Regions from separate parts of the Homo sapiens genome. Here region 1 is linked to region 2. Evidence: fine-mapped expression QTL. A gene starts in region 2. The other region holds a variant in brackets. All regions are shown on one strand. Distances are between the middles of the regions. Region 1 overlaps INSYN1-AS1 (INSYN1 antisense RNA 1). Region 2 holds the start of INSYN1 (inhibitory synaptic factor 1).

The links. PIP is the estimated chance that this variant, and not a neighbour inherited with it, causes the effect.
Region 1: its variant is fine-mapped to the expression of INSYN1 in esophagus mucosa (GTEx, PIP above 0.99). The same link has a PIP of 0.9 or more in unexposed skin.

What each region holds. Positions count from the first base shown.
Region 1 is chr15:73,768,715-73,784,475 of GRCh38, reverse strand. It overlaps INSYN1-AS1 (INSYN1 antisense RNA 1), which reads right to left. Exons shown (of 3, transcript NR_120353.1): 2 at 15,616-15,723; 3 at 14,674-15,006. Among named protein-coding and RNA genes, the nearest start is that of INSYN1-AS1, 8.5 kb to the right of the region's middle. RefSeq lists an enhancer at 8,713-9,912. The variant C/T (reference allele first, on the strand shown) is at 6,344.
Region 2 is chr15:73,745,924-73,761,684 of GRCh38, reverse strand. It overlaps INSYN1 (inhibitory synaptic factor 1), which reads left to right and starts at 8,334. Exons shown (of 3, transcript NM_001039614.3): 1 at 8,334-9,575; 2 at 9,988-10,710. The coding sequence starts at 10,555. RefSeq lists an enhancer at 9,444-10,217.

The sequences.
Region 1 (15,761 bases), 23 kb before region 2:
AGGAGGGGGTCAAAGCCCAGCCCAGGGCTGGCCCCCACCCAATCACGCTCACACATCCAGGATACCAGGTTTGAAAGACACCATTAGTGCTCTCCAGGGCTGAGGAAGAAAGCCTAGCAACTCAGGCTGTCCTGAGATTCAAAAGTGTGAGCACTGTTGTCCTGGGCCCTGGAGTTCAGGGGTTCAGGACCCAGCCATGGAGGAGTCTGAGGGGAGGGGCGCATGCCCACACATTGCTTCTCTAATTAAATGGAGCACAGGACAGAGACCAAGGGTACTCTGACAGCTCAGAAGAGGGAGCCACAGAGTCCCTCTTATTATCCCCTTATTATTCCACAGAAAGGAGGAGGAAGAGTGGTTGATGATGATGATTGTATCAGTCCATTCTCCTGCTGCTAATAAAGATGTACCTGAGATGTACATTACTCAGTACATTACATGTACGTTACAGATGTACATTACATGTACTGAGATGTAATTTATAAAGGAGTAATTTATAAAGGAAAGAGGTTTAATTTACTCACAGTTCAGCATGGCTGGGGAGGCCTCAGGAAACTTACAATCATGGCAGAAGGGGAAGCAAACATGTCCTTCACATGGCATCAGGAGAAAGAAGAATCAGTGCCCAGTAAAGGAGGAAGCCTCTTATAAAAACCATCAGATCTTATGAGAACTAACTCACTATCATGAGAACAGGATGGGGGAAACTGTGCCCCACGATTCAATTATCTCCACCTGGTCCTTCCCATGACACATGGGGATTATGGGACCTACAATTCACGATGAGATAGCCATAACATATCAATGATGATGATGAAATTGACCCAGCATCCTTTGTTGGAGTCCTCATTGTACAAGAGGTACTGTGATGTGCCCTGGGTATGCATTATTTCATTGGTGACAGCCTCACGACAACCCTTTGGAGGCAGCATCTTGTTATTCCCTCATTTTTTCCCAGAGGTGCCATCTGAAGCTTGGAAAGGTTAAGTAGCTTGCCCCAATTACGGAGTGGAGACAGGAAGGCTTCCTGGAGAAATGGCTTTTAAGGGATGGGAAGATGGCAGGAAGGCCACAGTGGAGATGGAGGAGAGGGCAGAGGGCAGGTGGGTGCTAAGAGTAGCAGGCAGTCCAGACAGAGTGAGGCTGGTGATGCGGGGAGGGGCCAGCAGGGAATGTTGCAGCAGATCCTGGAGGTGATAGGGAGCCATCGAATGTTTCAGAGCACAAAAGTAATGGAAAAATGCGTTAGGGACAGTGTTGTAGGGTGGGGAGAAGGAGCTGGAATATAGCAGTGCCAGGAGGGTGGTCTAGCCCCTGGCTCCAAAAGCCTGCACTCCTGGCTCTTAACCAACAGGAGAGGAGGTTCCTGGAGCCCAGCAGGAAGGATTCTGGCCCAGAACCACCTTTGGCCATACCACCCAACCTCAGGCAGCAGGCTGCCATGACACTCAACCTGGTAAAATGGGAGTCAGCTACTCCTCTCTGATCCTCAGTTTCCCCATATGCTCTGGGTTGCTACTGGTTTCTTCCAGCCATAGGAGGGCCTGGATGGGCTCCCTGCCTTTTGAAGAGAGCTCTTGAATCCCAGGGACAAGCACATTTAATGGGAGGGTTTCAGGCCAACCTCCAACTTTCAAGCAGCAACTCCCTCATCCAGAACAGCTGCTCAATTACCTCTTAATCTTCTTGATGGAGTGGAGCCAGCCAACCACTGCAGGTCCACGCCAAGTCCCCAAGCCACATCCACAGATCATACCCTACCCCAGAATTCCCAGATGGCTGGGTGGAGGTGTGGAGAGCTCAGGACAGCTTTTCCCTCATACCCAAAACTGCTTCCCTGTGCCAGTGGGTCAGACCAGTAGCCTGGAAGAGACAAAGTTTTAGCCACAGAGACCTGGTTTGAAATTCTACCAATAATGTTTGGCGCTAGGCCTGGAAGGCCCTTCCCAACCTATCCATCCACTCTGGGCACCCTTATTAGCCATGAACAGCTGCCTCTAGGAGTGGTTTTATTAGATTCATTTAAACCTCTGGTTTGGAGCAGGTTTGGATGGTGGGATTGGAAGACAGAGGATATAGATGGGGCAGGAAAGGAAGCCAAGAAAACCGAGCACTGATAACTAACTAGGTTGGGGCGTTCATCTCAAAAGCCAAAAACGAGGGGCCCTGTCCCAGCTAGAGCTTCGGTTGAAACCATTCCATTGCAGGAGCCTGGTAGGAAGTTCCCCAGGTCCATGACAAAACACACACAGGTGTTTGTGTACACAGATGTGAGCGCACATGTGCACAGACACACACACACAAACACATGACCAAGCAGTAATCTAGGAGAGGCTGTGGACTTACTTTTCCCTTCTGAAGATTTTCTTTTCTTTCTTTCTTTTTTTTTTTTTTTTTTTTTGAGACGGGGTCTCGCTCTGTCACCCAGGCTGAAGTGCAGTGGCATGTTCACAGCTCACTGCAGACTCAACCTCTGGGGCTCAGGCGATTCTCCCAAGTAACTAGGACTACAGGCATGTGCCACTATGCCTAGCTAATTTTTAAATTTTTTGTAGAGATGGGGTCTCATCTCACCATGTTGTTCAAGGCTGGTCTTGAACTCCTGGCCTCAAGCACTCCTCCCACCTTGGCCTCCCAAAGCTTACAGGCATAAGCCACCAATGCCTGGCCTCTGGAGATTTTCTGACATCATGTGATAAGCACGTGTCCACCATATCCTCATCCTGGAGCTGATGAAAGTACTAGTACTGTGCAGGACTGAGTTCTGAGACCTGCAACTGGAGACTGGAGGACTGAGCCGTAACTGCTTCCCTGGGAAGCCTTTTCACTGATTCTTTCAGGACAGTGGCCTAGAGAGGTGGGATGGGGAGGTGTGTTGGAAGGCTATCCTTCTGCAGTGATGTGACTCAGACCAGAGCATAGTGGCAGGGGAGTAGTGGAAGGGAAATACAGGTTTTTATTTTCACCCAAGCACTTTGGTTTTGGGCAGAAGCTGCCACAAGGTGTCAGTAAAGGCTCAGAGAGGTTGGCTGACTGGTCCAAGGTCACACAGGCCTTCTGATGCCCAGACCTGGGCATTTCCTACTAGACCCAGAGTGATCTGCTCTGTCTGAAATTGGTTGGCAGAATCACGGGGCAAGCTCAAGAAGGCCTGAGCGACCTTGCTGGGCGGTAACATAAGGTAACTTCCTGGGCTCAGGCCTCCAAGGGGGAAGGCTATGTCAGATTACATCAGTGAAATGGGAGGAGTAGGGGATGAGCCTGGGCTCTGCAACACTGTGTGAGGCTGACATTGATGGCACAGCAGTGACCTCTCCCCGCCCCCACACCACCCCAATTCTTCCTGAATGATCGTGGCGTAACTACTACTCACACTTATCTGCATACCTTCCTTCAACCCCCAGAGGAAGCCACTTCATCAGTCAGTCAGATAAAGAGGCCAGGTCCTTTCTGCTGGGGTTTTGAGGCTGGTCCTATTTAATCTCCTTTTCTTCAAAGGCAAGGAAAGGCCTTGGCAGGCTTGGGACCCTCTGATGCTCCCACCCAGAGAGGGGCTCTCTGCTTTGGGGTCTGGCTCTCCTTTCTGCCTGGCCTTGTGTTGAAAGCTCACTTCCTCTACTGGGCTCCAGGGCCCAAGTTGCTGGGCACAGTGGGGGCAATGGTTAGCATTTGTTGAATGACTGTTGAAGCGAGACCTTTCTGGAGTGGCCAGCTTCCCCCCTGCCTCTGCTGGCTCTCACAGCTAGGGGGCTGAGGGCTGTGCTTTCTGGGGTGGGTGACCACCTGTAGCAGATGCTCCTGGCTGGTTGGCCCAAGCCTCTCCACACCCCTTTTTCCCCAGCCACCTTCCAGTGACTGGCCTAGAGATGGCCACGGGACCCACTTCTGGTCAATGAGATAGGAGTGAAGTCACCGGGTAGGGCTTCAGGACATTCTTTCTAGAAGGTACAGAACTGGCATTCCCCTCAGCCTTTCCATCTTCTTTCTGCCTGGAAGTTGGATCTAGGTGTGGAGTTGCTGCAGCCATCTTGCAATTATGAGGCAACAAGCATGAAGACAAAGGCTTTCACACTAAGGTTGGTGGAAGGGACAATGAGAGGAGCCTGGAGCCTTGACGGCCTGGTGGCCCCAGACTGCCCATCCCTGAATTTCTTTTTATATGGAATAAATACCCTCCTCACCCCCACTGCACCCTAATAAACAGTTAGGACACTATTTATTAGGTTCTCTCTTACTCACTGTCAGATGCATCCTTAATTGTTTTATCACCCTCCTCCAGTTAGAAATGCTGAGCTCGGGTAGAAAGGGATCTCTTTCCCCTGACCTTGATATTGGCAGGAAAGGTCAGAACACTGAGCTTCCAATGCACTGTGAGTCCAGGATCCTTTGGAGCAATAAATGGCCTGGAAATGAGGCTGACTTTTGAGTGACCAGTAGCTTCTCTAATAGACCGAGCTCAGGGACCATGCAGTGTCTTCCCCTTCTGTGGAAGTGCCCTGCTTTTCTTACCCCATGCTCTCTCCCAGTTCCACCAGCCTCCTGACTAACTCCTAGTGTCTTTCAAGACTCAGCCTGTGTCCCCTCTTCCAAAAAGCCCCTGCCACCCCCATCACCCACCCCCAGGATGGGTCAGACATTTTCCCTTGTACCCCTACAGTACCCTATGCCACCCGTAGCACAGCATTTGTCACCAAAGATGTCATGGACCATGTGTCCATGTGTCTGCCTTGCACCAGATGAAGTGTCTTTTTAACCTTTCTAAGCTGGGTACCTAGAGCAGGTGTTCCAGTCATTCAGGAAGTCATTGTTAACTTGCTCATTCATTCATTCTAGGTTTACCGAGCTTCTCCTAGAGATCCCAATGCCAGGTGGAGCAGCTCTGCTCTGCTAAGCTGTCACAGGGCCCAGTGCACCTTGCATAGTGGATCCTCAGGAACAGTCCCAGAAGGTTGGCCTCAGGGATGGGTCCTCCAGCCACAGGCCTTGCTCCTTACAGCTTACCAGAGCAGGGAGAGGTGCAAGCTTGGAGCCAAGATAGCAAAGTCGGATCTCATTCTTGGCATTCTGCCTCCTCCCCCACCCCACTCTGCCCTGCCATTCAATAAGGAGGAGAGTCAAGGCCAGAGTGTCCACATGGGGGGTAAATAAAACTGGGGGTACCTTGCAGGGCCTGCAATTATAATCACCTCCTCCAGGACTCAGATTTGGGAGCTGAGGATTAAGGAGGAGGCATGGGCAGAGGAACAGGACTGCTTCTAGAACTCCTAAAGAAATTGAATTTATAGTCAAAACTCTTTTCACAGAGAAAACTCCAGGCCCAGATGATTCTCCTGGTGAATTCTTGTGAATATTTAAGTGTAAATAAACAAACCTTATTATGCAAACTCCTCCAGATAACAGAAAAAGAGGAAATTCTTCCTAAGTCATTTTATGAGGCCAGGGTGATGTTGATATCTCAATTCCCACATCTGTAAAGTGGGGATAATAATAGGTGGTGCCCACCTCTGAGGTAGGCAGCAAGATTTGGATTAAGGGAGTTGTATGTATGGCCCTTAGCATGATTCCTGACATCTAATATGTCCTCAATGTTAGATGCCAATAATTGACGTGGCCAAGCCCCAATTCAGGCCAAAGCCTATGTCTCATCTGCACCATGCTGAGTCTAGAATGGCATTCCTTAGACAAAGGGAACAGAAAAGAGGGTTGGGGAATGATGTTGAAAACAGCCCCTGTCCGGTGATGGCCACTTAGCAAACTTGATCTTGCTGAATCCTCACGAACACTCTTCAAAGTAGCTATATCAATCCCATTTTACAGGTAGGAAAACTGAGGTTCAAAGAATCTGCAAGTAACTGTATAAAGTCAAAGCCAGGCCTGTCTTCAACATAAAGCAAGTTACTAACCAACCAATCCGTGGCAACAAAGCTCTCTGACCTTGGGCTGAGGCTATCTAGATTTAAGGGTTCCTTTCTCTCTCTCTTTCTTTTTCTTTCTTTCCTTCTTTCTTTCTTTCTTTCTTTCTTTCTTTTTCTTTCTTTCTTTCTTTCTTTCTTTCTTTCTTTCTTCCTTCCTTCCTTCCTTCCTTCCTTCCTTTTTTTCTTCTTTCTTTCTGTCTTTCTTTTTTATTTATTTATTTTTTGAGACAGAATCTCACTCTGTTCCCCAGGCTAGAGTGCAGTGGTGAGATCTCGGCTCACTGCAACCTCCGCCTCCTGGGTTCAAGCGATTCTCTTGCTCAGCCTCCCGAGTAACTGGTATTACAGGCATATGTCACCACGCCCAGGAGAGGCAGTTTCACCTTGCTGGCCATGCTGGTCTTGAACTCCTGACCTCAAATGATACA[C/T]CCACCTCAGCCTCCCAAAATGCTGGGATTACAGGCATGAGCCACTGCACCCAGCCAAGGGTTCCTCACTGTAAAATGACTGAAGGAGTTTCTCTCCAGGCTGTTAAAAGACAAGAAAAACACACAAAGAGTTCTGACATAAAACTGCCATTCTGTCTCCAAGGTTCCCATGAGCCTACATTCCCCTGCAGGTCTCCACCTGCCCCAGCCTTTACATGGCTCATGTCATAAGGAGGTGGGTCACCCCATCTCCTGCCTTATGGGAGAGGGAGGTTGTTATTGCACAAGTAGTACATAAATACATTCTCATTGTAATAAAAACTTAACCAATTCTGAAATATGTTGAACCCTACCCAGAGGGGAATACCATTCAACCCTGGATAGATCTCCCTCCAGACCTGCTTCTGTGCATTTATCTCATTATATAGACGCATCATTTCAAGTAGTTCTTTTACATGACTGCAATAATCCTGCAGGTATTGTTCTGCAACTTGCTTTTTTCACTTCACAATCCCACGTGCTATTTATATCTCCTTTACTTTCCCGATGGATTCAGGAGGTTTACCAGAGTTCCAGAGGGTGGGTACAGAGCCCCAGAAAGAACATGGGGCTGGAGTCATGCTGACCTAGATTGAAATCCTGGTCCTGCCATTGCATCTGGGTGACCTTGAGCCAGTCCCTAAAATCTCTGAGCCCCAGTTTCCTCACCTGCAAAATGGAGATAGCAATAGGGGTTACCTCAGAGGCTCAGTGTGAGACTCCACTATGATATGACAAAGCGGTGTTAATAATTTCAGATCCTCAGCCTGATCCTCAGCTTCCCTAGGGCTTTGAGTACAAGGATTTAAGGGTCTGGAGGTCCCTGGTGGGCAAGATGGTCCTTAGAAATCAGATCCCAGGGCCTTGAGCAAGTCCTTCCTTACCCAAGACAGACAAGACACAGGAAGAGAGAAAGCAGCAGAGCAGCGACACGAGACACCCAGAGTCACTGCTCCATGGCTGCAGACCACACTGGGCCTCTCCAGCCACATTGGGAGTGCTGGGTGTCCTGCTCCTCCACATCCCATGGAGGTAGCAGTGGTGATATCTGTCTGGGTTCTGCTTTCCCTAAGCTGGGGAAAAGCAAGCTGCTTTTTTCTTTTTCTCTTTTTTTTATATTTTCTTTTTTTGAACATACAGGGTCTTGCTCTGTCACCCAGGCTGGAGTGCAGTAGTAGTGCAATCATGGCTCACTGGGGTCACTGCATCCTTGACCTCCCAGGCTCAAGCACCCTCCCACCTCAGCCTCCCGAGTAGCTAGGATTACAGGCACATGCCACCACACCCGGCGTTTTGATTTTTTGATTGCTGTTGCCCAGGCTGATCTCGAACTCCAGGGCTCAAGCAATCCTCCCACCTTGGCCTCCCAAAGTGCTTGGATTACAGGCATGAGTCACTGCGCCCTGTCCCAAGCTACTCTTAGTAAATATCTGTTGATTCCACGATCCATTCCTTCACTTCTGGAGCGTGTTGGAAGATTCTTCTTCCTATTTCAAAAACGGGGAAACTGAGGACAGGGAATGTCAGAGGCTCTAGACATCATCTGGCCCAGCTCCCTCATTTGACAGACGAAGTGACAGAGACCCTGTAGGGAGGAAAGCAAAAGGCATGGGACAGCCCCGGCATAGAATGAATACAATAAATGCTGCATGAGGGGCCAGATGTTTTATTTAATCCTCCATCCTGGCCCATAAGGTAGGTATTGCCATTTCCCATTTTACACACCAGAGACCTTAGGTGGCTTTCTCCAGGGAGCACCGCCAACAGGAGCCAGAGTTAGAACTCTAGTGCGCGAGTCTCTCACCCACTGGCTCCCGGCACTGCCCTCTCTTGCCTCCTGCCAGTCGTCCCACACACTGCCTCATCTTCCTGGCCTGCCCCCTGGGCTGCAGCTCCCTAGGAGGCCTCTCTGACCACCCTCCTGTGCCCCACTGCTCTGATACAGACAACCATCCTGACCTTCAGGACCCCTGAGCTCTCTGACTTGATGAAGAATCTGTCTTCTCTCCCGAGACTGTGGGTCGTTGAGGAGAAAGAGTCTAATTCTGAAACATTTCTGGGTCTTCACATCCAGCATAGAGTCTGGTCCAGAAGAAGCAAATGCGAATGTTTGTGGAAGGAAAGGAGGGACAGAGGGAGGGACTCCAAGGCCATGCTCTTTCTTCTATCCCACAGCTTATTTGACACAGCCAAGGCTCTAAGATTTGTTTTTTGTTTGTTTGTTTGTTTGTTTGTTTTTTGAGATGGAGTTTCTCTGTTGTTGCCCAGGCTGCAGTGCAATGGCACGATCTCGGCTCACCACAACCTCTGCCTCCCAGGTTCAAGCGATTCTCCTGCCTCAGCCTCCCAAGTAGCTGGGATTACAGGTATGTGCCACCACGCCTGGCTAATTTTTTTGTATTTTTAGTAGAGACGGAGTTTCTTCATGTTGGTCTGGCTGGTCTCGAACTCCCGACCTCAGGTGATCTGCCCACCTCAGCCTCCCAAAGTGCTGGGATTATAGGCATGAGCCACGGTGCCCGGCCAAGGCTCCAAGATTTCATCCCACATTGCACATCCCCTTCCCCCACCTCACTGCCACTGGCCCTCTCCCTACTCCTCAGCCTCCCTCTCCCAAGTGCTAGTGCTCCCCACTCGTGAGGGCAGTAACCCCTCCCCCCCCCTCCCCTGCCGCACTGCCCACAGCCCTCAGGGACTGCCCTGCCAACTGAATCCCACCAGGGCCCAGGGCCTCAGTGATGGCTCTCTCAACAGGCCGCTCCCCTTAAGCAGGTGACAAGGCCTTGACCACAGACCCGCGGAGGAAGGTCTTGGAGGCCTGGCCTTGCCTGGCCCTTCAAAGCAACTGAGAAAGTGGCCACCTCCTCCACAGTGCCGCCCTCCTGCTGGCTGGAGCCTGTGTGGTCCACGCTCCTTTTCCGAGGTGGGTAGGGGGCTGGGGAGACTCCCAGGTTTTGTCAGCAGAGAACCATAGTTGGGGAGGACTGCGTTTCCATGGATACAAGCCATGGGAGCTGCTGGGAGATGGGGCCATGGTGTACACAGATACAGATCCACACGGACCTGCAAGAAAAATAGCAACAGATTTGCTGAGTCATTGGCCCCACATATTTATAGTTTCTGGCAAAGGCAGACCTGCCTATCAGAGGCTAATAATACTGCAGCAGCGTGTTAATTGCAAAGACGGAGCCTTCAAGCATCCATTCAGACACCCGAGACCGCTCCTTGAATAAAGAGTGGGGCCCTCACAATGAAAGCCGGGATGCGTGGAGGCAGCGTGTGTGCTTAGGAGTGTATGTGCATGCAGGTATGTGGAACCCAGCTCTGGCACGTTCGGAAAGCCAGACCGAAACCACCCCGCACCAGAGTGTTAGAAAGCACTCTTCAATCACCTAAGGATATCTAGGATTCAGCCCACTCTACAGATGGGCAGGGTGTGAGGAGATTGACAAGAGGAGAGCAGGCTGGTTGGCTATGTCCCAGGGGTGAGAGGAGGTGGACGGGGTGCTGGTCTGCAGCCGTGAGAGACCTTTGTGGGGACAGCCACTGTCCTCTAGCTCTGCACAGTTGGGTAGTTAGGAGAAAGAGAGAAACAGGCCTCTATCTTCTGGAAGGTCAGCCCCAGTGGGCCACCTGACACACCTGAGATCCCACAGGGCCCCAATACAGGAGGCAGAGTCAAGGATGTAGATGCCGGGAGCGTGCCTGACGTCTTGAATAAATGCCCAAGGGATAAAGTCAACCCTAGAAGACCATCTATATCCTTTGCCTCAGGGAGCCAGGAGGCCCATTTAGCTCTGAATGAGGCAAGCCAAGTCCTCACCTCCTAGGACTTCACCGGACATGGTGGTCCTGTCCTTGGAGCACTGCCTTACAGTAGCATTAGTTATATCTCATTGCCTCTGCCCCTCTGGGGGCTTCACATGTTCCCAGCACCTGGAAGAGCAGGCCCTCAGTGAGGGCTTGTAGATGAAGAACCAAATCCCTCAGGTTCTTTGAAAGCAGTTCTCAGTCCCCCAACTCTTCTGAACTCCAAACCAAATCCTCCTCCCCTGGCTTGGGTTCAAGTCTCATTCCTGGCTGTAGTCCTCTCTGGACGTGCTCCTTCTTAACGCTGAGCCCTTCGCTGGATGCAGAGGGCAGAAGATGGGTCTCTGACGGGATCCCCATCTTCTTATTTCAGCACACACACTCCTGCCCTCAGGACAAGGAGGGCAAGGATTGCTGGATGCAGCCTTCCCTTTGCTGCAGCTGAAACAGCCTCCTGGCCTCTAGCCTCCAGCCCAGCCTAGGAGGACAGGTCATCCTCTTTCCCGGAGGGATCTGACAACAGATGGGTCATGGCCTCCAGGGACCCCCGAGGAGCAGCAGAGCAAGGCTCTGCAGGGAGGAGGAGTAACCAGGCTCGCTGCATGAGCTGGGCCTCCATTTCTCCCACTCCTACCCCCAAAACAGCTCAATCATTCGTGACTGAGTTCACAGCATTCCGAAGTAAGGAGGCAGAAAAGGAGGGAGGAGGGGAGAGAAGAGAGGGACATCCTTTCAGTTCTCACTTCTCTTCAGGAGAAGGTTGACTCAAGAGCTATTATTAATAGTAAATTAAATAGTGCAGTTATTCTGAATAATAAAAAGCTCTTCTGTTCCAAGTTTTCACTGTCCTCTCTCGAGGGAAATACCTGCTGTGGCCTGAGATGTGGCATCTAGTGAATAGCATTAATAGGACAAAGCAGATGCTCCCGCTGTGCCCAGTCACAGGCCACCAAGTCCCCTCCAAAATGCCTCCTCCACCCGAGCATCAGGGTGCAGGGAGAAGACAGGCTTCAGGTGCCCCAGACACCCCAGATCACCCCGCGATGATCACACCACAGAGCCCAGGCTATGTTCACCTCAGGGTGGAAACCTTGTCGATGGCATCCCTGCTGGTGAATAGTGGTCCTCCCACTTGCTAGCCGTGTGACCTTGGGCAAGCCCTCGAACTGTTCCATTCCCTCATCTGTAAAATGGGGATAATGATAGTATCTCTCTCATGGGTTTGCTAGAAGGATTAAGGTTAATATGCATAATATTGTTATTATACGTATAAAGGGCTTATAACTGTTCCTGGCATTTAGTGCAATGTAAAGGTTTCTTAAACAAGAGGGTGCCAGGCTGTGCAGAAGGCAAGCCCAAGATCTAAGACTCCATGCGTCAGGTTTGTTGTGATTGAAACCATTACAGCAGAGAGCTCCTCAGTAGGTGTCAGCCCAGGCTGATGAAGGGGATGCAGCGATGTGATGTCCCGCTCCTCTCTGGGCCTCAGTTTCTCCACCCATGCATGGGGGACAAAGGTGTATGAAGCGACAGCTATGGCCCAGCCTGTGCTGACCTGTAACTTATAAAACAGCTAATGTACATTGAACTCCGACTACGTGCCAGGCACTGTGTTAAGTGCTTTATAGTCAGTCAGTCATTTCATGTAATCCTCACAACACCTCCATAGGTAGGTACTCTGTTCCACAGATGAAGAAATTGGGTCTCAGAGAGGCTAAGTAACTTGCCCAAAATCACACAGTTAGCAAGAGGTGGAGCTAGAACTTGAACCCGGGTCTGCCAGACTCCACAACCCAACTCCGATGCCCTTGAAGTCATGTCACCTAACCTCTTATTATATAGTAGCCAGGAATGTGTTGTGTAACTCAGGATTGCTTGGCAAAAAAGAAGGGGCAGGTCTGGGCTGCTCCTGTCCCACCCCAGGCTTAGCAGCCAAGCAGCCCTCCATTTGATACAGGTTGAACATCCCTTATCCAAAATGCTTAGGATCATAAGTGTTTCCGATTGGGGATTTTTTTTTCAGATTTTGGAATATTTACAAATAGTTACTGGTTAAGCATCCCAAATCTCCAAATCCCAAATCTGAAATGCTCTGATGAGCGTTTCCTTTGAGCATCATGTCCACGCTCAAAAAGTTTCAAATTCTGGAGTATTGCAGGTTTCAGATTTTCAGACTTGGGATGCTTAACTAGTATCAGCTTTTCTGAAGAGGTGAGGACTCTAGCTGGCTGCCTAGTAGTTGAGGGAACACAGAGAGTTGAAAATGGATCCCATGGAGAGTCGGGTGAGAAGACCCTGGGGGAATCAGGGGATGCACCCAAGGCCCGGTGGAGAGCCAGACACAGAGCTATTGCCGGCCCAGGCCCAGAGCAGGTGCCAGCATCTGGGATGTGCAGGAAACCCCAGGGATGCAGCCTATCAGAGCCCCTCCTGCTCACTCCCTCCCATCTACCCCGAATCATCCGGTCCCTCCTGGGCCCACTTGGCTTCCTCTCCTGCATCTCCAATGGCAGCAGCTTTTGAGGGGGGAACACTCTCCCCTGGGGCCCGGATGCTGTGCTAAGTCGTTGTTTCTGAGGAGGAAACAAGGCCGACTGCATTTTCTAAAGAGGCTCCAGGGAGCTGCAGCCACCTGTGAGGCCTGCGACTGGGGCCTCTCAGTGCCCACCACTGGGACAGCGAACCCTGCAGGTCACAGGCGGTGGGTCAAGTAGGGGGTCCATGAGTGTGAACAAAATGTTTGACCTAGGGCTGATTGAGCAACATTTGTGATGGGGCAGACACTGGGCTGGGAGATGAGATGGGGTGGATCAGGCAGGTCCTCAACCTCCTGGGGCTTCTAGAGATAGAGGTGAACATAGAAACTAACCTCCCCCTGGTAAGTAGCAATGACGCAGTAACTGAGCTTTGTGGGGTCGGAAGAGCAGGGACTGATAAGTCCTGCCTGGGAAGGAAGGTGGAAAGGACATTCCAGGCAGGAGAGCAGCCAAGTGAGAGGGCCGGAGGCATAGGAGATGTGGGGGAGCCTCCTTCCAGGAGTTCTGGTCCTATATGGTTCTAGGTGAGAGATTGGAGGTGATAAGTGGTGTGGACAGAGGCCAGTTGTAAGAGGCCTGGAAAATGCACACAGAAGCTCGAGTTTCCTGCTGAAGGCAATGGGGAGCCACTAAAGGGAGTCATGTGATTGGACTGGCCTTTAGAAAGATCACCCTGGGACAAGCTGACACCCCATCCAGCTCTCCAGAGCCCCAGCTCAAGCCCTTAGGCGTCACAGTGCTCCTGCCTGACAGGCCATCCTGGATTAGGGGGTGATGCGGGAAAAGTTATGAGTTCACATTCATGGGACTCAGCACAATACAGATCCAACCAATACAGATTCTCCCTGGCAATGGATCTCTTCCGCAATTCAAAGATGTCTACATTAGAAGTGATGACGTTTACATATCAGAAAATCCACCCCTATAATTAATCATGTCAATTACCAGAAAGGAAATAGTTTTGTGATCATCTTAACTGACATCAAAAACTCATTTGACAGAACTGAATATCCATTCTGCTGAAAACCCTTAGTAAAATAAAAATAAAAGAACATTTCCTTGGCATAATAATAATAAAAAAAACCTATCTGCAACCAACCGTCAACATCATTCTTAGCAATAAAACACCTAGCCAGGGTCATTCATATTTTAGTCAGGGTAGAATGAGAAAGCCTGCTATTAACACAATTATTTTACATTGTTTTGGAAGTTTTAGCCAAGGCAAGAGTACATTAATACACAAAAGGAAACACAACATTTGGAAAGGAGGAGAAATTGTCATCATTATTTGTACATGATATTATTGTTTATCCAGAAAACTCAAGAGAATCAACTAGAAAAGTAATAAGAGACTATGAGCGAGGTCAGTAAGATGACCAGTTTTGAAATAAATACACTGGCAAAGTCCAATTAGAAACCTTAAGAAGAAGAAAACTGAGGAGTGAGGCAGTAGCTCAAGGGTACTCAAGGTTGCAGAACAAGCCCAACCACCTCAAAGGTCTCCTGTTAGGGCCCAGCCTAGCAGGGAGGGGGAGAGAAAGATGGGGTGCACCAGCTGGAGCTGCAGAGGGCAGGGAAGTGGGGAGGAAAGGGGTATCCTGAAACATCTTTCTGGGCTGGTAACAGTTGGGCTTGGACTGGGAGCTGCCCTGTTGGGGGAATATCCAACCCTGTGGGCCTGGTTACCAGCAGCCCTGGCAGACAGCAGCTCAGGCCAATGGGATGCAGGCAGTTCTGAGAGCCGGTACCTGACTGCTGGGGGCTCCAGGATGCAGCAAGTCCAGGGTAGAGGACTGCAGACCCTGATGGAGAACTGTCATCCACTGCGGGGCACAGAGTCCAGCAACGAGATTCCAGCTAAGTGTCGCTGAACATCTGATGGGCTGATTACAAATTGGTCCCCTGGATTCATTAAAGTAGATTTCCCAAGAGAAGCTGTCCACGGCAGAGTCACACCCAGCCAACCTTTGAGCTCCATTCTGATGTCAGGGGCTGGCTCCTCAGCTCTCTGCCTCCAGGCTCCTGGCAACTGGGCCCTTTCTTGCTTGGGGTGGCATGATTCCCCTGGAGGCATCCGGCAGGTCTGCAGATGCACAGGCACTAGATGCAGTGCCCCCAGGGCCATTCTCAGAAAGTGAAGCTTGATTTTTTTTCTCCATCCATGGTGTGAGTATGGCATGAAATGCATGCACGGCTCCTCTCACATGATGAACAATCTCTGGGATTTACACCCAAACTTCTCCTTTCTCTCTTGTCCTCCTCACTCATGGGCCCCATCTGCATGAGAAGAAAAGAGAAGAAGAGAAGAGAGGAGGAGAGGAGAGGAGAGAAGAGGAAAGGAGAGAAGAGAAGAGAAGAAAGAAAAAGAAAAAGAAAAAACAAAAATCAAACAAACAAGACATCACTCATTCCCCCCGTCTACCCTCCCACCCCACCCCACCCCATTTGCTCCCCACCCACTCATACAACTGCCCCTGTCCAGGGAAAAGACAATTACTTCCAGATAAGATGTTGCCATTTACAAGGAGATTTCATGCAAAGCAATGGTTGGAGCTTCCATGGTAGAATTTTAGGACAATATGTAGGAGTACAATATTTTAGACATTGAATTATGTGAGGATCAAATAATTGAAAGCTGGAATTTTTTTTTCTTTTTGAGACGGAGTCTCGCTCTGTTGCCCTGGCTGGAGCACAGTGGCATGTTCTCCACTCACTGCAACATCCACCTCCCAAGTTCAAGCAATTCTCATGCCTCAGCCTCCCAAGAATCTGGGATAACAGGTGGCCACCACCATGCCCGCCTAATTTTTGTATTTTTATAGAGACGAGGCTTTACCATGTAGGTGAGGCTGGTCACAAACTCCTGACCTCAGGTGATCCGCCCACCTTGGCCTCCTAAAGTGCTGGAATTATAGTCATGAGCCACCACGCCCGGCCAAAAGCTGGAAATTAATGAGTTCAATGCAGACTTCAAACTTCTTGAGGAGGCTGTGGCTGTTGAGTGGTGGAGAGGAGAGGAAGGGAAGGAGGGA
Region 2 (15,761 bases):
ATTGCTCACAGTTCTGGAGGCTGGAAATCCAAGATCAAGATGCCAGCAGATTCAGTGTCTGGTGAGGGCCTGCTCGCCAGAGATGGTACCTTCTCCATCCTCACGTGGTGAAAGGGGCAAGCCAGCTCCCAAGGGCACTAATCCCATTTGTGAAGGTGGAGCCCTCATGATTTAATCACTTCCCAAAGGCCCCATCTCTTAATACTATTACACTGGGGATTAGGTTCCAACACATGAATATTTGAGAGACACCACATTTAGACCATAGCAAAGAGTTTATCCTGAGGTCAGTTTTGAATCTGAGCTTCTCGGAAGACATGAAGATGGATCCATGAGTCTGGAATTGGAGAATCTGGGCTGGAGATGTGGATTTGGGATTCGTGGCCATATTGGTAGTAACGGCAATCAGCAGAGAAGGATATACAACTGAGGAGGCAGAGAGAGACATGAGAAAGCAAAGGACCCAGAACTGAGCCTTGAGCAACTCCAGCATCCAAAGTTGGGCAGTGTGGAAAGTGGGCAGAGGAAGCTGAGAGCCAGCCATGAACATGCAGCCTGCAGAAATCCAGGAAGGCTGGAAATCCCTGATGCCGAGAGAGGACAGGCGGCTGAATGTCCAAATGCAGTGAGAAGACAAGTCAGATCAGGGCTCAAACGTGTCCTGTGGATTGAGCATCTTAGAGGTCACGGGTGTGTTTAGCATTTAAAGGCTTTTCAGGGGAGTGGTGGAGGCGGATGCCAGATTGCAAGGAAGAGGGATGAGTGAGAGCCAGGGAAGGAGAGGCAGGGAATGGGGACAACTCTTGGCGTGAGTTTGGCTGTGGAAAGAGGAAAGACGAGACAGTACTTGGAGAGGGAAGTGGGATCTTACTTGTAAGATGAAAGAATTTAGAGAGCCAGTTTAAATGCTGATGGGAAGGAACCAGGAGAGACAGAGAGAGAGAGTAAGTGAGAGAGAGAGATTTAAGGATAAGAGAATGGGGAGTAGGGTAATGGGCAGCCTAAATTCCCCAGAAGGCAGGCAGAAATGATAACAGCATACTTTTTCCATGCCGTGGCAAGCTAACTGAAGATTCTTTGAAAGTACTCTGCAAAATATCATCTTCCTGTAATACCCCAACATCCCATTTTCAGAAGAGGAAGTAGAGGCACAGAGAGGGCATATGCTTGGTCTAAGTCACACAGCAGGGCTTTGCATACAGGTCTTTCCTGGGGAAAGTGATGTCTGAGTGTTAGAGTTCTGGGGAAGGCCATTAAGGTTCAGGGTACGTGTTGGGGGGACCCCTGAGTTATGTGCCATGCCCCTTCCTTCCAGTTTTTTCCACCTTAGGGTCATCTTTAAAATAGTGTGTTTAACAAAGATGCAAAATAAATAATTATTTGAGAGAGTCACTCAATATTTACAAAACATGCCTTGAGAACTGACTTTGACTGGCTCTACTGGATGTCAAGGGCATGGAGGTGCTCTCCAGCAGCATGTGGTCTGTGGAAGAGAGCTGGATTCACAATGGCAAGGAAGTGTGGCAGACACTGTACTTGCGGTGGACGAGGGCTCTGGGGTGGTGCAGAGGAGGGACCTTGCACACTGGAAGAATATTTCAGGAGGGTCTGGGGGTTGGTCTCGAGAAGAGAGAGGAGAGGAGCATTCCAGGCAAAGAGGAGGGCAGGTATAAGGTGGTGGTGAGGAAAAAGCTGAAAGCAGTTCAGCCTGGCAGAGGCACAGAGAGCAAGAGGCAATAGAGATGAGGTTGGAGAGCTAGACAAGGGCAGGCTCCTGGAAAGATGTGGACGCCAAACTAGGGAGACCGGACTTCCTCATAAAGACAGGGAGCTGTGGATGGTCATAAGTGGGTAGATCAGAAGGCTGGTACCAGCAACAGCAACAGCAGACTTCATAGGGTAAGTGTGAAGATTAGCAGATCCATCAGGAGGCTGCTGGCTAATACAGGGGCTCATGGGTGCAATCAAGAGCCTGGTTATCGACAGGGAGATAAAGTGGGTGGAAGCAACAGGACTTAGTAACTGAAGAAATGTGGAAGAGCTCTGGCTCTAGGGTGGCTCTAACTCTGGCTCTGACTCTAGTGCGATCACAAGTTTGTGGCGTGCATGGAGGAGTAGAGGGCATTGACATTCTCTGAAATTAGGAAGACAAAAGGGGATACATTTGGAGGAAAGGTAATGGGTTCCAACTTGGGCATGTTGAGTTTTAGGTGCCTGCAAGACAACCTCATGAACTGTCCAGTAGGCAAGTGGCAATATGATCTGAAGCTTTGGAAAGGTCTCCTCTGGAGACAGTGAATTGGAAGTCAAAAACTTTTTGGGAGTGTGAAGAGCTCCCTTACGGAAGGTGTATAGAGTGAGAAGAGAGTCTAGACGAGAATCTCGAGGACCCAGCTTTTTTTTTTTTTTTTTTTTTTTTTTTGAGACGAAGTCTCACTCTGTCACCAGGCTGGAGTGCAGTGGTGCAATCTTGGCTCACTGTAACCTCCATCTCCCAGGTTCAAGTGATTCTCCTGCCTCAGCTTCCTGAGTAGCTGGGACTACAGGCACGCACCACCACACCCAGCTAATTTTTTTGTATTTTCAGTAGAGATGGGGTTTACCCTGTTGGCCAGGATGGTCTCGATCTCTTGACCTCGTGATCCACCCCCCTCAGCCTCCCAAAGTGCTGGGATTACAGCCATGAGCCACCGTGCCTGGCCCTGAGGACTTAACTTTTAAGGGGCCAGAGAAAGAAGATGAACACCTGAAGCCAACTGAGAAGCAGCAGCCAGAGAGGCAGGAAGGGAATCAGTAGAGAAAGGAGACATGAGGCCACACAGGACAGGGGACCCGGAAGTAAGACAAGCTCAGCAGGGTCAGGTCCCCCAAGGTCGCTGCCTTGGATAGGGGAAGAAAAGTGTCTGCTGGTCTTAGCAAGGATAATGTCCTGCACAGTGAGGGTTATTCCAGCAATGCAGTGCCAGCAGGCGCGGGTTACAAGGTTTGAGGAGTGAGTGGGAAGTGAGGAAGTGGAAGGAGTCAGTGTAGAAAACTCTTGAGAAACTTGACTCAGCTGGGGAGATTATTGTGGGCAGCAAGATGACAGAAATGTCCTCAGACATGGCTTTCCCAGTGTGAACCCGACACTGTCCAGCCACAGAAGGAGATATGTCACCCTGTCATTCTGAAATGGCCTTTCCTTGGCTATTCAGATATGATTCTCTATAACTCCTTTATTTGGGGACTTTGTCATGAAAAGTTTGCCTCTGATCCCACCTGACTGCCACTCATCCCAACCTTTGTGTTTAGAAAATTTCCCTAAGCCCCCAATATCAATAATAATAGGTAATACTTATCAAACGCCTACTAAGCCCTGTGCTGAACATGATACATGAACTGTTTTATTTAGTCCTCAAGACAGCTACCAGGAAGGTATTTACAGAACGAGAAACTTAGGCTTGGGAAGATTAAATGAGTCACATGGTTAATGGAAAAGCTGGCATTGGTGCCCTATCATTCCAACTCTACTGCCTAAGTGTTAGGCAGTGCTTCCATTTCTCTCTGTAGACTCTCTCTACTGTCTCTATTATCTGTTCGAAGCCCAAACATGCCCACTGTCACCCCGGCACTGCTTCCCTGGTGTCAGGATCCATTGCTTCTGAGAATCTAGCTTGCAGACTGAATCCTCGTTCTCTCCTGAGCTGCATGCCAGTCTCAGTCCTGCGCTATTAGAGAGAGTAGACTGCAGACTAAATAAAAACAGTTACCATTTCTTACCATTCTTCCAACTCCTGCTCCCTCACCCCCACACCCCAGGCACTGTGCTTGGTGCTTTTTGCTCCTTATCTCATTCCATCCTCAAAGCAACCCTAGGCAGTCACTAGTACTTTGCCTATTTTATAGACAAAGGATCTCAAGTTCAGAGAGGGCAAGTAACTTGCCTGAGATCACACAGCTAGCAAATGACAAAGCTGGGGCCCAAATCCAAGTTGGCCTGTTGCAATAATCTCCCAAATGCCCCCACTTCCCCTCCATGGCCACAGGGCAGCAGGTCCCAACCCTCTGGCTTCAGGATTTGGAGACATCTTACCCCATCTGGGAACCCAATTACTCAGTCAATCATTTAGTCAGCTCATTTAGTATTTCCTGAGTGCATCTGTCAGGCTCCAGTTGGTTACACGAGACAGAGACCCCACCAAACGAACTGGAGCAATATGAGGAATTTATCAGCTCTTAGAGATGAGTAGGATGTTGTTGCAGCTCTCCAGACTGAAAGAAGAACTGCAGGAGTGAAGGCCATGAGAACAAAAACTGGGACTCAATGCTGCTAGCATGCTCTCTAAATTCCTCTCCTCTCTGCTGCCTTGCTCAGCTTCCTAGATTGAGTGGGAAAAATGGCTTGTCAGCAGGTTTGGACCATAACATCCAGTTTTGCACCCCACTAGGAAGAGGGGTTCTTCCTCCCAGCATCCACATATCAATCCCAGGGAAAGAATCTGATTGGTCCTGCTTAGGTTATGTGCCCACCCCTTGGACCAATCACTGTTGCTGGAGGATGGGGTTCCACGGTTGGTGCAGTCTGAGTCACATGCCTAGTTAGTGGCAGTGGGATAGGGATGGGTGGGAGTAGTGGGCACTTTAACTGACAACCCACTAGGATTATGTGATGACAGCAGGGAGTTTCCCCAAGAAAAGGAATGCTAGAACTGGATGGTGGAAAACAGGCAGACAGGTAAAAATCGCTGTCTACTGTCTACTGCAGTGGTCCATGTGAGAGATGGGCAGACACACACAAGCCCATCATGAGGAGTTCACAGACTCACATGGAAATAAGGCTTACAGACATGAAGCCATGAATAAGAGCTGATAGCAGCTACCATTTACAGAGCACCTACCAGGTGCCAGGCACTGGGCCAAGTACTTCCATGTGCATTATCTTATTCCATGTTCACAGTGACCCTGGAAAGTAGTCATTATTGTCCTGATTTTTCTGAATCAGAGAGACAGTGAAATACATCCCCCCCCCTTTTTTTTTTTACAAGAGACCCAATTCAAGAAAGAATTAAAATGTTTATAGGCTGCTATCCTTGCTCAGAGAGGTTAAGTGACTTGCTCAAGGTCACACAGCTAGCACATTAAATGAATGCCCTGGGAAGCATTTGGTTAAGGGCAAAAAAAAGTGCTTCCATTTCTCTCCGTAGACTAAAGCACTAGGGAAGGCTGCCTAGAGGGTGGAGGTTGGCGGTGAATAAGCAGAGATCTAAAGGATGGGACATCTAGGCAGGTGGCCAGGGAGGTTGGGTGGAAGAAAGGATGGATCAATCCCCAAACACTAAGGAAGGCAGGTCTGAGCACCACCCAGATACTATCTATTCCCTCTCGCCTGTGGCAGCTCTTTGGAGATTTACAATCAGAGACCCCTTCTCCTGAGTCTCCTCTTCTCTAGCCTGCTCTGACCAGCCCTACCATCCTTCATAGAACATATACACCAGTCACCTCCCCTATTCTACTTGGCTGTCCTCCTATGGACACACCCAATGAATTGAGGTGCTAGGCACAGTTTGATCCACACAAATGACAGAAGAAATGTTACCTCCCTTTTTCAAAACACTGTGCTTCTATTAATGAGACCCGAGATCAATTATGTATTAAGCAGTCACAGTCCACCCTGTCCAATCAAGCTCACTGTCTCCTAACCTTGCCAGTTCAAACACATCTCCCTCATCCTGGATGAGGGCGGATGATTCCCTGGACCTAAGACTAGAAACTCTTTTTTTTCAGGCTTAGCCCATTTTTGGTCTCGGCTGTTCCTTAGCATCACTGCTTCCACAAAAGTGATTGGTGAGACTGTGTGATTCCACTTATATGAGGCACCTAGAGTAGTCAGAGTCACAGAGACAGAAGATAGAATGGTGGTTGCCAGGGGCTGGCGGGGGGAGGGGTGATGGAAAGTCACTGTGAGATGGAATAAGATAATGCATGTGGAAGTACTTGGCCCAGTGCCTGGTGCCTGGTAGGTGCTCCACAGAGAGTGGCTGCTATCAGCTCTTAATCACAGAGTTTCAGTTTGGGATGATGAAAAGGTTCTGGAGATGGGTGGTGGTGATGGTTACACAACAATGTGAATGTACTTAGTGCCACTGAACTATGCACTTACGAATGGTTAAGATGGTAGATTTTAGGCCGGGCGCAGTGGCTCACGCCTGTAATCCCAGCACTTTGGGAGGCCGAGACAGGCGGGTCACGAGGTCAGGAGATGGAGACCATCCTGGCTAACACGGTGAAACCCCGTCTCTACTAAAAACACAAAAAAATTAGCCGGGCGTGGTGGTGGGTGCCTGTAGTCCCAGCTACTTGGGAGGCTGAGGCAGGAAAATGGCATGAACCTGGGAGGCGGAGCTTGCAGTAAGCCGAGATCGCGCCACTGCACTCCAGCCTGGGTGACAGAGCGAGACTCTGTCTCAAAAAAAAAAAAAAAAAAAAGGTAGATTTTATGTTACGCATATTTTGCTACAATTTTTTAAGTGATTGGTGGGCCCTCTGGATCCACCCCATCAGAAGAACATCTCCCCAACCCAGGGCAGCTGGATTCCCACCCTCACAGCTTCTGGTTCTCCAAAGGCAACCCCTGAGCTGAATCTCAAGGAAGTAGGAGTCAGTTCCCCCAGCAGCCCCCTGTGAATACATCTCTGAGATAACTCAGAGACCAAGGAACATCATTAGCACCCACAGTACCATCACTGTCTCTGGAATTCAAGTCCCCCATGGGCCAGCCTAAAACCACCACCTAGCCCCACCTCCCTTGACCCCTCCTCTGCCTCTAGTTCAAGATCTCTGCTTCCCCGCCACTTAAACTTTTGAAAATGTCATCTGTACTCACTCCTGTTCCTCACTGTTGGGCACATAGTCCTCGATGCCCAACAGTTTGGTTCCTGTCACCTTCTACCCTCCAAAACCAATTGCCCCTGCCATGTCACCCGTGGCCTCCTGAGTACCAAGACAAATAGACACTTTCTGTTCCTTCTCTCACAGCCACTCCCTGCCGCGTTCGACACTGATGAGCACTTGCTTCTCCCAAACTCCTCCTACTGGGCCTACATAACTCTCCACTTTCTGGTTCTTCTCCTATCTTTCTAATCACTCCTCCCTCTCACTCATGGACTCTTTTCTGAGGTTCCAGCCCAGAACTACTGCTTTTGTTACTTCTACGCAGCGTCCCTGTTCATCTCACCCCTCTAATGATGGTTCAAAAAAAAAAACAAACAAAATGTTACTCTCAAGCCCCAGCCTCTCTCATGAGCATAGATTCATAGACTCCACTGTCTTCTGGCCAACGGTGAAATAGCCTCCTAACTGCTCTATCTCGGTGGCACCTCCTCACACCCACTCACAATGCCCCAGAGGGGTTTCCTGAGAAGGCAAGCAGGCCCAGGTTCCTCCCAATATCAAAGCTCCCTCCGCCCCGGGATAAAATCTAAGCTCCTAACCATGGTCTCTGAGTCTCTCTGTGGTCTGCAGTCAAAATGGTATCTAAAAGGCCCCAGTTAACTTAAACTCCCCTCCTCCCATTTCTGCTTCTGAGCCTGTGCTCCCACCCTCCTCCCTGCCTGGAATGCTGATCCCCAACCCCCCACACTGACAGTCACTCCTACTCCTCCTTTGAGATTCAGCTCAGGGGTGGCCTACCTGGCAGAACCCGCCAGGCCCTGGCCTGAACTGCACCACCCAACCCACACTTCCCTACTCCCCTGTTAACATTGCTTCCAGAATTTGCCTCTGTTGTGACTCAGGAGTGTCCCCGAGCCGTGAGCTTCCTGAAATGCTCTGGTGGCCCCGGAGCCTAGCATGGAACCTGATGCACAGAAGGCCTCTAATACATGAGTCAATTGTTGAATAGCTGAAGGAAACGATGGGTGTCCAAGACAGCCTCCAACCCCCAGCCCTGCCGACCCAGAGCTTGGCACACAGTAGGTTCTCAGGAAAGGTTGGCAGTATTCTATTTTCTGAATGAATGTGATTTCAGGCAAGGTCAGGGGCTGGGTTATGTGGGTGGTAGAAGGGAGGGTCTGGATGCGGGAAACGTGGCCAAAAGGGAAGCTTGGGGGCAGTGCAGTAGGGGAAGGGGGCAATGGGGGTGTCTGGAGAGGTGGGAAAGGAACGAAGTCCCCAGAACGCTGTCCCTCCGCGCCCCAGGTCAGCCGGCGTGGGGTCCGGTCAGTCCGCCTCCAGCCCCGCCAGCGAGACCCTTCCCCCTCGCCCGGGTGGCGAGACCCCCCTGGCTCGCACGCTTGGCCCTCGGGGTTGGGAGGCGTGTGTGTCGCTTTAAAAGCTCCCTCCCGGCGCGGCGGGCCGGCCCCTTCCCTGACAGCGCCGAGGCAAGCGGAGCCAAGCGAGCCGGGCGGCCTTTAAGGGAGCCAGCGCCCGCCCGGGCGGCCAGTCCGGCGGGGGGCGGCGGGGCGGGCCGGGGGCGGCCGGGGCGCGGGCGGCGCGGCGCCGCGGCGCTTGGGGAGCGGGCCCAGGCCCCGGGAGCCCGGCGGGGCAGGGCAGGGCGAGGCGGTGAAGGGAGGCCCAGCCCCGACCCGGCGCCTGTTTGCCCCACCGGCGGCGACCCGGCGCCCGGGGGCTGCTGAGGCGGGGAGCCGAGAGCGAACGGACGGGAGGTAGCGGAGCCGAGCGGAGGCTGCGAGCCTAGTGCGCCCCGGCCCGGCCCGGCCCGCCGCTCGCCCCCTCCCCTCCCTTCCCCTCGCCGCGCCTCCTCCCCTCGCCTCTTCTCGCCTCCTCTCCTCTCCTCCGCCCGGCGCTGCTCCCGCCTGCGCCCGGGCCGCCGAACCCAGCCCGGCCGGGGCCCCCGGCTTCGCGCGCTCTCGGCTGGGCCCGGCGGGGACCGGGTCCCCGCGGCTGACATCGCCCCTCCTCGGGGACCCGGTGGATTCCGGACCTTTCGGAACGTGAACTGAGCCGTGGGAGCGGTCTCGCCCAGGGCCGACCGCGGGGCTGGGCTGAGCAGACCCTCGCGGCCGCTCCGGACGCCGCGGGTGCCGGGGCACGGACGTTCTGGGTCCGGGCTGAGCGCGTCCCGGGCGCCCGGCGGTGCCAGCTCACTCCGGGCGGGGTAGGGCAGGGCAGACCCCAGCGGAACACGGACCCGGCCGATCTGGACTGGACAGAGCGAATCCCGGACGGTGCAGAGCCCGGGGAATGCCGGGCGTGGGCTGAGGGGATCCCGGCGCCCTCCCAGCCCTCCGACTTTGGCTCACGCGCTGGGACCTGCCCGGCGTCTCCTCGGCCTCCCCGCGCCCCGGTCACCTGTGGCCTCGGAGCCCCAAATCTGCCGGACCCTCGCTCATTCCCGACCCCGAGCCTGGAGAGGCTTGAGAAAGATTTTTCCTGCCCCCTTCCCTGGAGCGCGGAGGCCCCGCCCCCTCCCACCGCCCAGATGTCTCCGGTCACGGCTCGGAGGACCTCCCTGAGGCCCGGGGCCGAAGGGTCCAGAGAGAGAAGCCCGCCCTAGGGAGCCTTGGGGGCCCCCCAACTCCGTCTTGGGGCTTGGCCCCCGACGCTGCTTGGAGGGAAGGCCGGTGCCCCCACCCTCGGTGAGTCCAGGAGTGGGGGTTCTGAGGGAAGGCGGGGCTGGGGGAGGGAGGGTCCGCTGGGAACGAGGGCACCCTGGGGGCGCTAGGAGGGAGGATGGGTGACTGGAGAGGCCCTCTGGTGAACCAGCCTGGGCAGGCCTGGCTGGGGGGAAGGTGGGGGGGGAGGGCGGGAGCTACGGCCAGGGTGCCCCGTAGCAGGCTGAGGACTTCTGCTTCTAAAGCAGGGGCTCCCTCCCTTTCCCTCTAGAGGAGGGGCTGTGCTGTAAACCGTCTGCCTCCACCACCCCTCCCCACAAAGAAAAAAAAATCCCCAGCGAGGAAGGGTGCAGGCTGGCGAGAGGAGGGAGGCAGCGGCATTGCCGGCTGGTGCTGCAGCCTGGGAGGGCTGACGCCAGGCTCGCTCTCTCCGCAGGGGGCTGCCCTCTTCCAATCCAGCTCCCTCCCCAGAGCTGCCCATATCCGGAGCCCCTTCCACATCTGGAAGACCCTGGCCACCATCCCTCTGCAGGTGTCAGTTGCATCCAGAGACCTCTGCCTTTGCAACTGCCTAGGAGTTGTGAGGGGATCCCTGCTGCCTTCCCCCATCCCAAGGGCATCTCTTACCCTTAGTCCCTGCAGAGTCATCCCCCTGCCTCTGTGTTCAAGCTCAGGCAGAGATCAGCTCTGCACACCCACAGGCACTTCAAGACCTGGAGGCCACTCCTGGGACCCAAGGTCCCTCCCCCTCCTCTCCTGTGTCCTCACCTTGACCCCCTCTGCTAGACTCTGTCTCCCTCTGGGTGTCCCACTCTCCACCCAGAGGCAGAGGAGGCTGGGTGGCAGGGGGCAGGGGCTGGTTGAGGGCCGCCCAGGGCCAGGGTGGGCTGGGGGGCCGTTAAAATGTGGAGCTCTGCCCAGCCGAGGGGGGCTCCGTGGAGGCAGACGCAGTGTGTGCCCAGCTGGGGGGAGTATGGGCAGGCCTGCGGCCACGTGGTAAACGATGAACATTCGGGGCGCCCCGGACCTCGGGCAGCCCAGTGACGACCCCAGCAGTGGTGGTGAGCGGGAGCGGATTCGACAGCGCATGAAGATGGTCATCGGGCAGCTTGAGGGCATCCTTCGCGAGCTCAAGGAGGTGGCCAAGGAGCTGAGGGAGGTAAGTGAGGGGTGAGGAGGGACCAGACAGACCCTAAGCCAACCTTCTTGGGTTTGGCACAAAAACGTACTCATAAATACGTTGGAGTGTGCAAAGCTGCGTGCACATGTGTCACTCTACTGGGGACCTTCTTTCTCCTTGCTCTCCTTTCCGCAAATCTGCTTTGCTAAAAATCTCATCAGACCCCAAGGCTGGAGGGGCCTCGGTGTTGTAGAGGTTACTTGAGCAGCATGTCAGTGGGCCTGGAGCTCTGGGTTAGCACAAAGGGCTGCCAAGATGGCCAGTAAGGACTGAATCCCGCCACAGCTTCTTAGTGGAAGACAACCTTCTGGGACCCAAGCTGACCCTTGAACCCACCATCTGTCTCCCAGACTCTGATCTGGTCACAAGGGACCCTGGGAGAGTGCAGATAGTTGTGCTGAGGTGGTTTCCACTGCTTGAGGCCCAGCTCAAAGCATATCCCTAGAAATCACACAGATACTGAGAACCCTTGATCTTGGAAAAATTTAAGCCAGCTATGTCCTCTTTGTCCGGGGGTAAGAATGGGTCTGGGGGTGCTGTAGTGGATAACAGAGTTCCTTGCATATTTTGGCAGGGGCAGGAGTCTTCCCTAAGGGGATGCGAGTCTCCATCCCACTGTTCTAAATATTTTTGCCAAGGCTGAAAAGCCACTGAGAAATGCTGGGATGTGTGTGTCCCTCTCTGTCTTTCTAAGTGGAGCCTGGTTTAATTACTGCTTCTCACATCGCTAGGGTAATGAGGTACACATGTCTTCAGCCCTGCCCCCTGTGCTGCGTTCGAGTCCAAAATGCATGACCAGCGTTCTGAGCTGCTAGCCTGAATTTGCCCACTGGGTGCCATTATACCAGCCAGGTGGGCTTTAGGCAAATTTCAACTCCTTGTAATCAGGGCCCCTGCAGAGATGGCAGGGAGAGTGATTGAATTGGAGTTATGGGCTCAAGCTCTCCCTGGCCAGCTGTGCAGGGAGGATAGGGGCTCTAGGAAGGCTGAAGAGGTGGGGTGATGGTAGGTACCAACTCCAGGCTGGCAAAGTGGCATTGCAGCCTGGCCTGAGAGCCAAGGAGGAGGGGTTGTTTGAAGGGCACTGTGTTCAGAATGGGATAGGGAGTGGGCATAGAGATGCCAGGACAAGAGCTGTCCAGGGTCAGCCTCGTGGAGCCTACCAGGAAATCCCATCTCAGAAGATGAGAATGACTGTTGCTTCAGGCAGACTGAGGTGGTGGTGCTTCTGCCCATGGACTGGGCCGGCCATAGTCTGGGTTGCACATCTTTGGACAGTACAATTTGGAGATCAAGCGCCAGATGCCCCTGCGGAACGCTTCCTCCTCCAAACTCTTGGGTCCAAGGCACTACAGTTTTCCCCCTGCCTCCATCTTATTTTAGATCAGGGCCATGGGAACTGTCCAAAGTCTCAGTCTTGGCCAGGGACATGAGACCTATGCCCCGGCAGGTACCCACAAAGAGCCAGGATTGACTCTAGGCCTGGGAGTCAACTCTGATACAACTCCCAGCCTTTTCCCAGTTGGGCATCTTCCAGGCATCTGTGTTCCCTCTCCCCACCGCATAGCCACCCAGAGCTTCAAAGGATCTCATAGGTAATCCAGACCAGCTCTGTCCATTTACTATTGAAGAAACTGAGGCCCAGAGAGCAATAGGGGCTTGTCCAAGGTTACACAGCCTACCAGTGGCAGAAGTATGCCTAGAACTCGGGTTCCTGATGCCTTTTCTGGGGTTTCAGCAGGTGAGCTACTGGGCGATCTCTTTGCATTTTGACAGGGGCCTTCCAGAGATGATCTCTTATGCTCATCTGTGATGCAATAGCTCTAGGATTTATTTGCAGATCGTTTAGATGCCCTCTCCTTCCCTTTCACACTCACCCACTCCCATGTCTCCAATAGCAGAGCTCCAGGTTCACAGGCTATGCAGCCCAGAGGCCTCAGCCAGGACAGAGAAAATGAGTCCCCTCCCCCCACACACCCTGTAGGCCATGTGCCTCCACCCAAGACTTTGGCAGGTTGCTACGGCAACCAGAGCCTACCCCGTATGCCACTGCCTGCCCGCTGCCAATGGCACCCAGCTGGGGGAGTGGGTAAGCCTCAGAACTCTCTCGTCCCCCAGGCAGGGTCTAGACACAGGGTGACAGGCAGAGGGGAGTGTGGAGGAAGGCAGGTGAAGCTCTGGGAGGCCCAAGCAAAAGAAGAGATGCCATCACCGTCTTCCTGTGAGATGGGATTTGCCAGGGATGGGGTTACCAAGGGGGGGTGCCAGACCCCGGTTTGGAGAAAAGGGTTGGAATCTCCCTGCTCTCTGGAACCTGTGGTCTTGGCTCTTGGCTCTCCAAGGGAGCTGTAAAGCTGAATCTGCCTGGCTCTCCTCAGTCCCTTTGTGTAGCATTTTTTTATCGGGGGCATGGGTAGGCTCAAGGTTGAGAGGCACTCACTTGTTCCCTCACCTCACCCCATGACCTGGGCAGCACCAGCTTAGAGCCCACCAGCTGTGTTCTTGTCTCAGGCCAAGCACTTAGAAGTGGAGATGAGAGTCACATACAAGACTGTTGGGGGTGGGGGGCTGCACATATGCTTGGTGAAAGAACAAGGCCAGCGGAGTGGAAGGGCTTAGCTTTATTCCCCTCAGCCATCTTCCTCCTCTGCCTGCTGCTCCCCTTCCCCAGCCCCCTGATGCCACTGATCATGGCAGACTCTCCTCATCCTCTCGAGCATATGGCCTGAAATTCACTGAAAGATGAGCCACACCAAAGCACTTCCTCCCCAGGTCCCTCAGCCTCAGTTTGCTCATCTCTGAAATTGGGATGTGGTGATTTGCACTGCACGGTGATCTTATAAGGATTTATTAGGGGCTTGGCATGCAGTGGGCTGGGGGCGCGGGGATCAACACCTACTCACACTCCTAGAAGAGTTGAAGTTCCCTCTCCCACACCTCCCTCGCCCTCGCAAACCCCTACTATAGCTCTGCCACTGGCTCCCTGGGCGATGAGCAAGTTCTATCCCATTGGTGGGGAAAGTCTTTTAAAGGATTAAGTGAGGTGAGGATGTAAAAGTGCTTTGAAAGCTAAAATTGTGCTGCAGAGGGATATGACGGTCAATCGTTAATTAGCCCTTATCTCTCCCAGGCTCCCCAGTACTCCAGGATACCGGGCCAGTCCCAGCAGGTTCTCTAAGCTCCTCAAAGTTCTGTAGATCTTAAGTAAGAGATGCAGAACAGCTCAGGGGCTATGAGCATGGGCTCTGCAGCTAGATGCCTGTAGTTCAAATCTGAGCTCCACCCTCTCCTTAGCTGTGTGAACTTGCGAAAGTTACTTTACCTCTCTGTGCTTCTGTTTTCCCATTGGTAAAAATGGGGAGACTACATTTTAGGCATCCTCCCCTACCCCTGCCCCAGGGTTGTTGCGAGAATTAAATGAGACATATATAAAGCACTTAGCACAATGAGAGGCACAAAGCTCACTCCGTATCTGTTTGATGTTTTTAATGAATTATTCTAAAACTGGCCTGCTCCTCAGCTCCACGTACGGCCTTGTTTTCTGGAATCACATCAGTTTCTTAGCCATGACCAGGGAGGTCAGGACCACATCCTGGCCTCCTGGCTGGGGCCCTTTAGTTTCTCCTGCAGTCAGCAGTCTCACTCCCTGCCAGTGGGAAAAGCAGATAGAGAGTGACAGGGATGGGGGCAGGAAGGGGGTCTCCAATAAGGTGGCCTTTGAACAGAGACCCCACAGAAGTGAGGATACAAGTCACATGGCTATCTAGGGGAAGAGCATTCCCGGCTGAGGGTGCAGCCGGTGCCAAGGTCTCGAAGAGGAAGTGTGCTTGGCATATGCAGGTTCAGCTAAGGAAGCCAGAGCAGCTGGAGGGCAGTGAACAAGGAGAAGAGTAGAGGAAAGGTCAAAGAGGGAGCAGGGAGTCAGATTCCGTCGAGCCATGCACAGCATGCACGGAATTTGGATTCGTTCTCAGTGAGAATCCCACACACTCTCCAGGAATCTGCTGGTCATGTTTCTGGGTGGGAATCTGCCTCCCCACTGCTCCCCTGTTACCCACCCACCAGAAGCTCCCAAAGGCAGGGTTAAGGGCCCCTGTCCTTGGCCCCCAGGTATTGAGCTTACCTTGAGCAGGTACTTGGCCTCCTCATCCTTGGTTTCCCCCTCCCCCAGGCGTCACTCAACATGGGGGCTCAATAGTGATCCTTGCATTAACACCAGTGTCTCCCACATCATCGGTGACTCTTGGGTGGGATATAACTTAAGGGCACAGTTGCTCACTTTGGCCCAAACACCTCAGGAAGATGGAGGGGTTGGCACAACGTTTCCCCAGCCTTGGGTGGCAGTGGAGGATCCCCCACCGGATTTGCCTAGGAAGCAGTCATCCTGGCATTCTGTTTCCTGGCCATTCCATTGTGCAGTCCCATCGGCAAGGGGCTTTGTCTGAAGGTGGCAGGGAAAGCCATAGGCCATGCAAGTGTGAGATAAATGGGGCCCAGCCAGGAAGCAGCTGGAGCAGGAGAGGCTGGGGACCACGGAGCTGCGCCAAAGTGGGTCAGCTCCATCACCTGCAGCTCAGCAAGAATTGCGTGGATTTTTTTCTTATTATTTTTGTTCACGCCTTCCTTTCCTCCCTTTTCCCTTTGCCTTCTCCTCCTCCGGACAGATTTACCAAAGCTCCCTGGCCAATTAGGCCAAATTGCAGGATGAGAGCCATGAATCACGATCAGCTCGCTGCCCCTCCAACTCCACAGCCCCCCAAGAAGATAATAACGTAATCACAGAATTAAAAAATAATCAGTGGTCATAAATAATGCAGAATCCCCAGTTATGTAACCAGCTGCCTTGGGGAGCTGGGAGAGAGGGAAGGAGGTGGCAGCTTGTCAGGGGAGGTGAGGTGGGGCAGGGTGGGGGGTGTGGTGGGGGGTCCGGGGGTACAGGATGCTGGTTCTGGGACTACAGGTCCTCAGTCCTAGCTCTAAGGCCTTAAGGAACACAGCAAAGCTTCCACTGGAGAGGGGGCTCAGCCAGG